2 separate regions of the Homo sapiens genome follow, and region 2 is linked to region 1. The links come from fine-mapping of genetic effects on gene expression. Tissue or cell type: whole blood. Region 1 holds a variant in brackets; the other region holds the start of a gene. All regions are shown on one strand. Distances are from middle to middle.

Region 1 (5,550 bases):
AGCAGAGACGTCATGGCTTACTGGGTGTGCTGCCATGCACCTTCATCCATCTTATGCGCTGGAGAGACCACTCACCTGTGTTCCCGCCTGGGCATCCTACCTCTTTTTCTTGGGAATTTCTTCTTGGAAGAGTAGAACTGTATATTCAAGGAAATTGAATTCCTTCTCCCATTTTCTGCTAATGCTATGCATGTATTGATTCATTCATTCTTCCAACAAATATTTTGGAAGCCCCTGTTAGATGCCAGGCACTGGGATCAGTATTGGGGATGCAGTGGTGAAGCAAACAAATGCTTTCATGGAATCTGGATTCTCTTAGAGGAGACAGACAGTAAACTAGTAACCAAGTAAAATAATCCCATGTAGCGAGAAGTGCAACAGTGAAAATAAAACTAGGTAATGCGGTGGGGCAGGCTGAGGGTAGAGGGTACTACATCCGCCTGAGCAATCAGGAGAGGCCTCTTGGAGGCTTAAGTGATCAGGAGGAATAGCTTGCAGTTTCTGATGAATTTCCTCATGTAATTAGTTATTCAGCAAATGCATGTGGAGCACCGGCCGTGTGCCAGGCAGTGTGCTCAACATGGGGACTACAAACTCCAGGCAGACCAACCCAGGCCCTTGCCCAAGAAAGCATCAGTCATTCTTGGACAGAAAAGTCCTACGAGGAGGCTGTCAGCACAATAGAGGGTCACTTGCCTGGTGGTGAGCATGGACTCTGCCCGCAGGAGTGAGGACCCGTTTCCTGAGGACACCCGGGCTATGGTAGAGGACAGAGCAAGAAGGGGCATGAGAGCCTGTGGCATATCCATCAGATCACTGCCCGTTCCCTAGGGTGAGTGGCAGCATGTCCGAGGCAGCGGGTGCCCCAAGAGGCAGGCATCTGGAGCCAGTCTGCAGGGGGTGGCACAGGCAGCGACTGAACTGTGTTCCTATGAGCCGTGTGGGGCTGCTGGGGGGCAGTTGGTCAGTTAGTGAGCTGACCCACTCTGCACCTCTCAGAATGGGTTTGCAGTAATTCAGCCAGCGGGTGGGAGGGATGAGAGGTGAAACTGAGAGGCTTTCTTATCATTCAGCAGATACTTGCTGAGCGCTTGCCAGGGCAAGGCCCCGTCATAGGCACTCAAACAAGCCCAGATGAGTCTCACTGAAGTGAACAAGAAGATTAATTGTGACTGTGACAAATGGTAGAAGGAAATGAACAGGGTGGAGTGATGAGGAAGCCTAGTGGTTGTGCTGCAGGGGTTACTAGGTGCTAGTCAGGGTGGTCGGGGAGGGCTCCTCTGAGGAAGGACCAGCAGAGCCACAGCCCAGAGAGTGAGAAGGAGCCAGCTCTGCAAAGACCTGGGGCAAGAGTCCTCCAGGTGAAGGGAGCAGCATGTACAGAGGCCCCGGGGTGGGAAGGAGCAGAAAGTGGGCCAAGGTGAGGCTGGCCAGGCGGGCAGGGGCCAGGTCATGAAGGGCCTTGAAGGCCCTGAAGAGGAATTGCCATTTTTTCTCCAAGTGCAATGGGAAACCCCTACCGAATTTTTAAGTAGGACAGTGATGTGGTCAGATGGAAGTTTTTAAAAGAAACGTTGGCTACCAGACAGAAAGTAGATGACTGGGGGTGGGGATGAGTTGCAGGAGGGAACACCGAGAGACTTGCTAAGAAGCTGTTGCAGTCATCCAGGCGAGATAATGTGGATTGGATTAGGCTGCTGGCTGGGGAGTAGAGGAAACTGGAAGGACTTGTGATTATTTCAGCGCTAGAGCCAGGACGTGCTGATGGATTGAATGTAGGGGTCGAGTGAAAGGGACGAGTCAGATGACTCCTGTGATTTGGCTTGAGCAATGGTGGGGGTGCATTTACTAGGATGAGGAGACAAGGAGAGTCACTAGGCTAGGGGTGAGGGGTTCTGGTTGATTTGAAAGGAGGGGGCATGAAGGGAGGAGCCTGGGTAAGGCTCAGGTTCCTGACTCCTTTCCCTGTGTGACCAATAGTGCCATTTCCAGAACTAACAAGCATGGGCCTTGGAGTAGGTTTGGAGAAGAAACGGAAAAGTTCAAGTCCGGTGCCCTGAGGCCCAGGTGCCTGGGGAAGCTGCCTCGTGGGGGAGCTGCCACCTGGTTTATGCTCAGTCCTGGCCTGTGAGCACAGAGTCTGCATTTGGTGGGGCTTTGCTGGTGGAGGTTGGTTGAGTGATTGGTTTTTGGTTATGCAGCAGCTGATCAGGCTGCACTTGACCTTCAGCCTCACTTTTCCAGATCCTTACCCCCCAAATCAGGTCCCAAGTGACCTGGTCTCTTTCTCATAGATTTTTTCCTCATAGTCAATTTTAACATAAAAGCCACGTTCATAAAAACCAAATGTGAGCTCAGGCCTTCCAGTAATCATAATAGATTAGATGCTGCACCGAAATGAATATCCCACAGTGGAAAGGGTTGACCGGTTGGCGGAAGGCGCTTGTTGTGATTCAGTTGGGCCACATAATGAATTCTGGTTTGTTTCTGTAATAGAAAATGCAGCCTT[C/T]GCTCTTCTATCAAGTCCGCTGAGTCCTGGGCCAGAGGTGGAGGGATGGGGGTGAGTTTTACAGCTTTTGTATCTTGAAGGTTCCCCAGTTCAGTGACCAACCTTCTACTCCTGCCACTCCATTTGTCATTGTTTACCCAGGAAGAAGGAGTCTTGGGCTCTTTGTGTTTTGTGTTTTGTTTTGCTGAGAAGTTAATGGAACATGGATGAGCGATATGGAAAAGGTTGAAAGGTAATAGGCTAAAGGGAAGCTTTTGCCATGCGGAGAACTTGCACAACGTCAGTTTGGATCTTGGCTGACACATAACCAGAATTAGAAGTACATTGGAAATCGGCCCAACATCTGGTTAGCTTTCGAAATCTTTGGTCTATAGTCTTCCAAAGCTGGTAATACTTGTGTGACTGCAGCCAAGGAGACTTTGTGTGGTCAACAGACGTTTTTAAAAAGTTTGAACTGTTTACCTGGTGTTCTCGTGGTGTCTTTATCCAGATCTGTCTAATTATTCTTATGCATCTTTGGTCTGGGTCTTTTACCTCTCTACCCTAAATGGGGGCTACTACTAAGGGGGAAGAATCCAGATATCAGAACTGAGAGGGAAGCTTAGTAAGAGTTACTGACACTGTGGGGCCACACCCTTCCCTTCTGTTTTGGATTCTTTGAATGAGTTAGTTGAGAGTTCCGCCCTCCACCCCTGTCCACGGGTGGACAGGGGACACCCGTTCTGAGTCGGTGGGCAGCTCAGGCTCTGACCCCTAAGGCAGGGCTGTGGGCGGGGCAGGGAACATGTGGTCTGCTGGAAGCCAGAATGAGCTAGTGCTCCCGTGAAGTGCAGCAGGGTTTCTTTGGAATTTGTCTGTCACAAAGCACTTAAGAGTTGAAGCAAATAGGATAATATATTATCCACAGTGTTTATTTCTGTCAGAGGGAAATGACTGGCAAAGAAGCTATTGGGTTTGCAGCAAAACCTGCCTTTCTGTGACCAAAAACCACGGGGTATGCATGCGTGTGTGAATGAGTGTCTGTGTGTGTATGAGTGTGTGTGTGTGTTTGTGTGTATGTCCTTGCACACAGGAGCCGTCTTACCTTTCACATGCATGCCCCTGTTACAGGGTGACATTGACCTTAGCCACTCAGAACCATCAGCCACCAGGTTGTTTCAGGCAGGAGGCTTAAACCTAAATCTAATGTTCGCCACAAATTAAATGCCATCCTAAGTACAGTGATGGTCATGCAATGATTGTTATAGAAAACAAAAATGAGAATAAGTTGCTTTTTCACTTGCCTTTGATAGTACCACCTTAAAATAACCAACTGCTGACAGTGTCGTATTTCTTTCTAGCATGTTTTCTGTGTGGGTGATGGTTGGGCTTTTTTGCACAGCTGTCATATGGTGGCTTCTATTTTACGTATGTTTCCCCTTCATTTTGAGATTTGTCTAATCTTCTGCCCGAAATTTGATCAAAACTACTTAACTTTTTAAAAAATTAATTCAGCAAAAATGTATGGACTGTTGTGTTTGTGCCAAGAACACCACTAGATCACATGACATACATAGCTTGGGAAGGTGGAGGGAAAGAGCGTTAACCAGCGGGGATCATGGTACACGGCAGAGAGGAGGGAGGTAAGAGCCACATGGCTGCATTCAGGGCTGGGCTTTCCACTCTCCACATGACCCCAGGCAAGCTCATGTCTTTTTTGAGCCTCAGCTTCCTCGTCTATAAAATGGAAATACTATTAGCCACTTCATGGAATGTCATGAGGATGAAATGAAGCATTCTACGTCATATGCCTGGCTGATGGTCACCATTTCTTCAGAGCTTACCATGCGAAGGCAATCTTGTCATCTTAGCAGAATCCTCTCCTCCTTCCTTCCAAAGACACTCTGTCCTTCCCCAGAGAGACTGGTGATTTTGTTGTTGTTTGTTTGTTTTGACTGAGTATTTTGGTAAATGATAAGGCCTCCTTCAAAACACTGGATAGTTGGAGTCAAAGAGAGGATTTTAAAGGCCATGGTGGGAAAAAGAGCTGGGAGAGAGAATGGGGCCCCTGGCCCAGAAGGAGCTTTGGGGAAAGAAGGGAGATGTTCAGAGGGGTTTCTGTTATATAGTTTTGCCGTGTGCTGTGTGGAATCACCTCTGCTCTCTGCCTCCCAGGGCTGGTGGTAAAATCTACCTCACATGGACTGCATGGCACTAGCAGGTCAGTTTGGGGTAAAGGGCCGGAAGCATGGAGACCACTTGGAACAGTCAGGGGAATGGAACCACCCCAGTCAGCCAGGGCACAACCAGATTATGTTACGGCCCGCTAGCTGCCTCTCCTGGGCCCCTCCACTGCATCACCCTCCAGGATCCTGGCACGAAGCCTTGCCTGTCCCTTCCCCCATCCTCCACCTCATCACCCCCTCCCCGGCTCTCTCCCACCCAGACCTCTCTGGGTCTGCTCCACTCCCTGCAGTCCCACCTTGGTTTGGCAAGTCCTGGCCCTCCCTGTCCAGTTCAAGGCAAACTCCTGTTCATCCTTTAGGATCCAACCTGAGCAGCTCGCCCCCTGAGAGGGGCCCCCAGCAGCTCAGCATGCCTCTTTTGGGCTGTCTGTAGCTTGATTTAGCTCTTGTTAGGTTTTATCCTTGTGTTCTTTTGTTCTAATTTTCCTTTTTTTTTTTTTTTTTTTTTTGAGACAAGAGTCTCGCTCTGTCACCCAGGCTGGACTGCAGTGGCGCAGTCTCAGCCCACTGCAACCTCCGCCTCCTGGGTTCAAGCAATTCTCATTTCTGAGCCTCTCAAGTAGCTGGTACTACAGGCATGTGCACTACACCCAGCTAATTTTTGTATTTTTAGTAGAGACGGGGTTTCACCACATTGGCCAGGCTGATCTCAAACTCCTGACCTCAGGCGATCTGCCCACCTTGGCCTCCCAAAGTGCTGGTATTAAAAACATGAGCCACCGTGCCCGGCCTAACTTTCCTTTTATAACACGAATGATAAGGAAACACATGAAGTCATGCTCAAACTAAAAATTCTCATCCATGCATTAAGCAGTG
Region 2 (5,240 bases), 89 kb before region 1:
TAGGGCCGGTCCCGGCAGCCTTCTCTCCCGCCCCGCCCCGCAGGTCCTCGCGCACCCCCCGCGCCCCCGCAGGCCCAGCACCCATGGCTGCGGCCGCCGCGTAGCCCTCCCGGTGGCGCTCGGAGCTCCGCCTCCCGAGGGGCCCCGAGCTCATTGGCAGGCCGCCCCCTGCACGCGCTAATTGGCCGGCTCAACGCCCGCGCTGATTGGCTCCGGCCGCCAGGGGGCGGGTACCGCTTCGCTCCGCCCCTCGGGGCCCTAGCGTCTGAGTTGCTTTCCTGGTTCGGGTCTGCCCTCAGATCTCAAATCGAATTCGCTCTGCGTATCGAATAGGGGGAGGTAAAAGAGACTGAACACAGTTCAAACCTAGACATAATGCTAAGGCCGCAAAAGCCGAAGGAAACCCGGGCTACCGCTGCACCTTGCTGCATGCCTCTTTGGGACTCCGTTTCTCCTTTAAAAGGAGGCGGGGTCGGGGAGGGGCGACGGACGGTTGCCCTGGAAATTTTGGACATTCCCAAAGCGCCAATTTTCATGGTGGAGATCCACCAGTGTCCCCTTCGCTTCTCCAAACTCTGGTTGCTGGAAGGTCCGCCCACTACGGAACCTGCATCCTAGAGTTAAGGAACACCTGAATAAAGAGATTCCGAGGTAGTTCAGATCTTCAACCATAAGGATGCTTTTTGTTTCTTTTTACTTTGTGAATCATGTTTAAAAGCAATAATACACATGGCTAAACATTCAAACAACCGTGAAGTACACAGAAAAGTGAGTCTCTCCCACCCACTGGTTCCCCTGCTCTTGGGTAACCGTTGCATGTCTTTCAGGAAAACATGATCTCGCCCAAAGAGCCTTCCAAAGCAGTTCAAGAAACCTTTAAATCTCAGGCCACACTGAGCTGAGTATTTTACATGCATCGCTTAATCGGAGGTATACAAGGCAGTGTAGTATGTATGTGCGTACTTTTTACAGATGAAAAATACGAGCCCAGGGATCCTACATTTCTGAGCCTGGGTGTGTTTCTTTGGAGGCCAGATCCTGTTCTTTTTTGCTCCATGACTTTGTCTTGCCCCACTCTATATGAATTACAGGACAAACCATTAACTCTCCACTCTTATCCATTTCTCCAACTGCTGAAGGTGAAACAAACCTTTACTCATTCATGCACTCTACCAATATTTGTTAAACACCTGCTATGTGCCAAACCTTGTGCTAGGCACTGGGGAGAACATTGGCCTCTGGCCCAGTTCTTTCTTGAGCAGAGTTAATGGGACACAGTGGACCTTTAATAAGGTTGATATGTAGAAGTGACTGAATGAATGAATGGATGGTAAACTTGAGAAGTCTTGCCCACACTGAACTTACCACTTCTAATCCAGGGTAGAAGTTAGATATATTCTGGCTCATGCAGAAAGTTGGGTGTTTCCTTTTTCATTTTAACGTGGTACTTTGGGAAATAGCATGGATTCTGGCTGAAGACCAGAGGAATCCTCTGGAAGTACAAAATGTTCAGTTTGGTGCATTGTTGCATCCAGCCTTTTCCAACACACACACACACACACACACACACACACACACACACACACACACACACACACACTTAATTGAAGTGGAAAAAGAAAAAGGCTGTCAGGACAAATAAGGTTGTTATCTAGTGCCGTTTTGGTTTATAAAGGGAATGAAAAATAAGGGTGCGTGCGTGGTTATGAACCCTGGTTTTGCCACTTGTTAACTGCATGATCTTGGGTAAGTCAACCTCTCAGTGACTCCGTTTCCCTGATGATAAAATAGGTTCGATAATAGTACCCAATTCATAGGATGGTTGTGAAAATTAAATACCTTAATATGTAAAGCCCTTAGGATAGTGGCTTTGCATAGTATACACCATCCAATACTATTCTTATTCTTATTATAAATCTAGTAATTGTTACTACAGTGGTGACTTTCCTTGACCCATCTACGCCGATTCCCTCTCCGGGACTGCGCCCAAAGCTTCCAATTCCCGCCCACCCGGAGGATTCTGCGGTCGCTCCTCCTCTCGCCCCGCCTTTTGTGGATGGCCGTAGGCCCGCGGTTGCACGATGCATGCCGGGCCTTGTAGTCCGTTCGCGGAGTCCTGCCGCCGAAGGCCACGCGGGTGAACTGCATTTCCCAGCGCCCCACGCGGCGGCGGCCGTAAAGCGCGGCGGTCGAACGGCCGGTTCCGGCTGAATGTCAGTGCTGGGCTGTGGGCCGGGGAGGAAGGCGGCTCGCGGTTCCTCCACCGCCTCCGCCGCCGCATCCTCCGCTTGTGCTACCGCCGCGGGCGCTGGGCCGCTCTGCTGGTCCGGCATGAGACCGTGAGACGAGAGACGGGTCGGGGCCGCCGACATGTTTGGCCGCTCGCGGAGCTGGGTGGGCGGGGGCCATGGCAAGACTTCCCGCAACATCCACTCCTTGGACCACCTCAAGTGAGTGTGGGGGGCGTAGCGGGAGGCCTCGGGGCTGGACAGGGGGACGGGGCGCCGAGCTCCGGGTCGGGGCTCTAGGAGGCGTGAGAGCGGCGGCGAAGGGCGCCCGGGGAAGCCCGTGTGGTGGTTAAGAGCGAGGGCTCGGGAGTCAGGGCGCCTGGGTTCGAACCCTGACCCCGTCGCTCTTGGCTGTGTGACCTTGGACAAGTCGCTTAATTTCTCAGAGTCTCCGTATCCCCACCTGTAAAGCGAGAGGATGCGATTTCAGTTTATGGACACAGACTTTGTTCTTGACGGTGTCCACCAAGTTTCCTGGCGGGGTACTTCTTAAACTGAACAGCTTAGAGGGTCAAAGGCCTGGGTCCTGGAGTCGGGCAGATCTGGGTCCGAATCTATCTGTGTGAATGTAGGCCTCAGGTTCCCCACTTGTAAAAAGAGTAGAGTGACAGCACCTGCTTCCTGCTATTGTGTTGAGAGTTGGTTGGATAAGAGAATGAACGTTAAGCTCAGAACACGTACAATTGCTCATTAAACGGCATTAATTATTATAAAAGAACAGATTATTTTCCGAGGGGAGTCTAAGCTGGGGGCATGCACGCTGAGACCCAGGATTTTGGGGCGATTGGGGAGGATGATGAAAAATAGAGACCTCTGAGGAGGGAATGACTCTACAGCTCTGGGGGAGGACAGGTGGCAGATAGGGTCTTGGGACCAGGAGTGCAGAAATTAAGAGGCTGGCTTTGCAGCCACACCTGCGTTCAAATCCTGAAACCACCATTTACTGGCTGTGTGACCTTGGGCAAATTACTTCACCTCTCTGAGCCTCCAGATTCCCATTTGCAAATGGGGATCGTGAACATTGTAATGGAAATGGAAGGTGACTGACCCAGTAGGTACATAGTAGGTGGCCAGTAGTGGTAGCTGTGTTTATTATCAGCTCAGCGAGGCCTTCCCAGACCACCCTACCTAACGTGCTCCCCCCATCCCAGTTCCTATCCATCACATCTTTCTCTTGCTTTCATTGAGTGCTTCTCCACTCTCTGCGATTATTCTTTATTTTTTATTTATACTTATTTTCTGTCTTCTGTTAAACTGGCACTTCACGAGGGCACAGACTGCTTGGTTTGTTCACAGTTGTATTCCCAGCATCTAGGACTGCTCTCTGCTTACTTAAAGAGTGGAAAAATGAATGATTGAATTGGGGAGAGATGAAGAGCATGCAGGCCAGGACCCAGGATTTGGGGGCAGGTGTGGAGGATGATGAAAAATAGAGATCTGTATGAAGGGAAAGGCTTTAGGGAGGGAAATGGCGGGGATGCTGAAGAGGGGAGTAGACAAATCTTCAGTGTCAAGAAATAGGCAGGTTTCCAGAAGGAGATCCTGAGACTACTAATGGGAAAGGAGGAAGATAGGGTTAGGGATATGGTGGGAAGTAGTGGAAGGGAGACGGGGCTGTGGAAAGGATTGGTGGGAGGGAATTAGATAGGGACTTCTCATGTGTCCCCGGGAGTGGGGTAGGGGTAGTGGCAGGGCCACAGTTCTCAGCTGTGACCTTTCTAGCATGGAGCAGCATTTAGTAAACGTTTGTGAGTCTTGAAGAGTGGGGAGCAGGAGGGTTCACTATGTGGTGAGGGGCACTTTTAGAGCAGGAGGTGGTGAGAGAAGACAAGGGGAGGAAAGAGGCCCAGGACAAGTCTGGGGTGGGTAGGGAGGTGGGGATCTTAGATGGGAGGGCAGCTGGCCGGGAAAGGGAGTGGTTGAAGGATTTCAGGAATTTATCGAGTGGGCGGAGGTGGCTGAGGAGGGGAGGGGAGTTATCCAGAGGAGGTTGGGCCTCCTGCCGGCATCCAGGTACCTCCAGGTTCTCACCTAACTCTGCTTAACTCTAGCCCTTTTAAATTACCTTAATTTATTAATTTATCGAATGCATTATTCTGTACCAGGTATTTGCTAAGGACTGCCTGTGTGTTAATTCCCTTAGTCCTCACAAGTCTGAGTTACAGGAACCATTATTGTTTCCATTTTACGGAAGTGGAAACTAAGGTTCAGGGGGCTTCAGTGACTTGCCCCCAGGTGTCAGCAGCTGAAGGGTACCAGAGGCAGGATTTGACTCCCGAGCTTGTGCTCATTATACTGTCTTTCTGAATAAAACTTCCCAATAAGTCTGTTTGAGAACACTTTTGACTTGGCTGAGTCTCATCGCCAATGGGGCATCTTTGCCAGCCAGCAGGGAATGGTAAACGGTCTCTGGTTCCTTTGCAGTATCCTGGGAACTGCCTGGGTTCATTGTTTAGATCACATGTCTATCGGATGCTTCTTTGGAAACCCAAGTTGCCTGCCCTGAATCAGGCAGATCAGCTTAATCCATATTACAGCCCCAAGAACCTGAGATTTGTGTATTGGTGGGGGGGTTAGAAGATCCCCCAGTGACTTGGAAAAGAGTTTTGTAAACAGCCAGTGCCCACCCTGGGGCTTGTGCCACTCTGCATTTGGCTCTGTTGGTAAACATCTTGGGTCTTGGGTACAGAACAGCTCGTTCCCTGAGGGAGTTTGCAGGCTGGTGGGGGAGACAGCTGTAGAGCCAGTGACTGTACAGTGTGATAAGTGCTGAGATCGCCATGGACCCAGGGTTCTGTGGGAACCCTTATTGGGAGCTTTCTGGAGGAGACAACACCAGCGCGGGTTCTCCAAGAATGAACAGAAGCCACCATTGGCGGGCAGCAGGGGCGGGAGGCGGAGCACTGTGACCAGGACCCTGCGGGTTTTGTGGCATGTCCAGGTGGGGGCTGA

What was found. PIP is the estimated chance that this variant, and not a neighbour inherited with it, causes the effect.
Region 2: it holds the start of CLEC16A, and the variant in region 1 is fine-mapped to the expression of CLEC16A in whole blood (INTERVAL, PIP 0.90).

Annotation. Positions count from the first base shown.
Region 1 is chr16:11,031,384-11,036,933 of GRCh38, forward strand. The region is part of intron 13 of CLEC16A (C-type lectin domain containing 16A); the gene reads left to right. Among named protein-coding and RNA genes, the nearest start is that of CLEC16A, 90 kb to the left of the region's middle. The variant C/T (reference allele first, on the strand shown) is at 2,510.
Region 2 is chr16:10,942,348-10,947,587 of GRCh38, forward strand. CLEC16A (C-type lectin domain containing 16A) reads left to right here and starts at 2,217. Exons shown (of 24, transcript NM_015226.3): 1 at 2,217-2,450. The coding sequence starts at 2,371. DEXI (Dexi homolog) reads right to left here and starts at 121. Exons shown (of 2, transcript NM_014015.4): 1 at 1-121. It also overlaps a transcript of CIITA not described here. RefSeq lists a silencer at 1-260 and enhancers at 1,830-2,009, 2,230-2,289.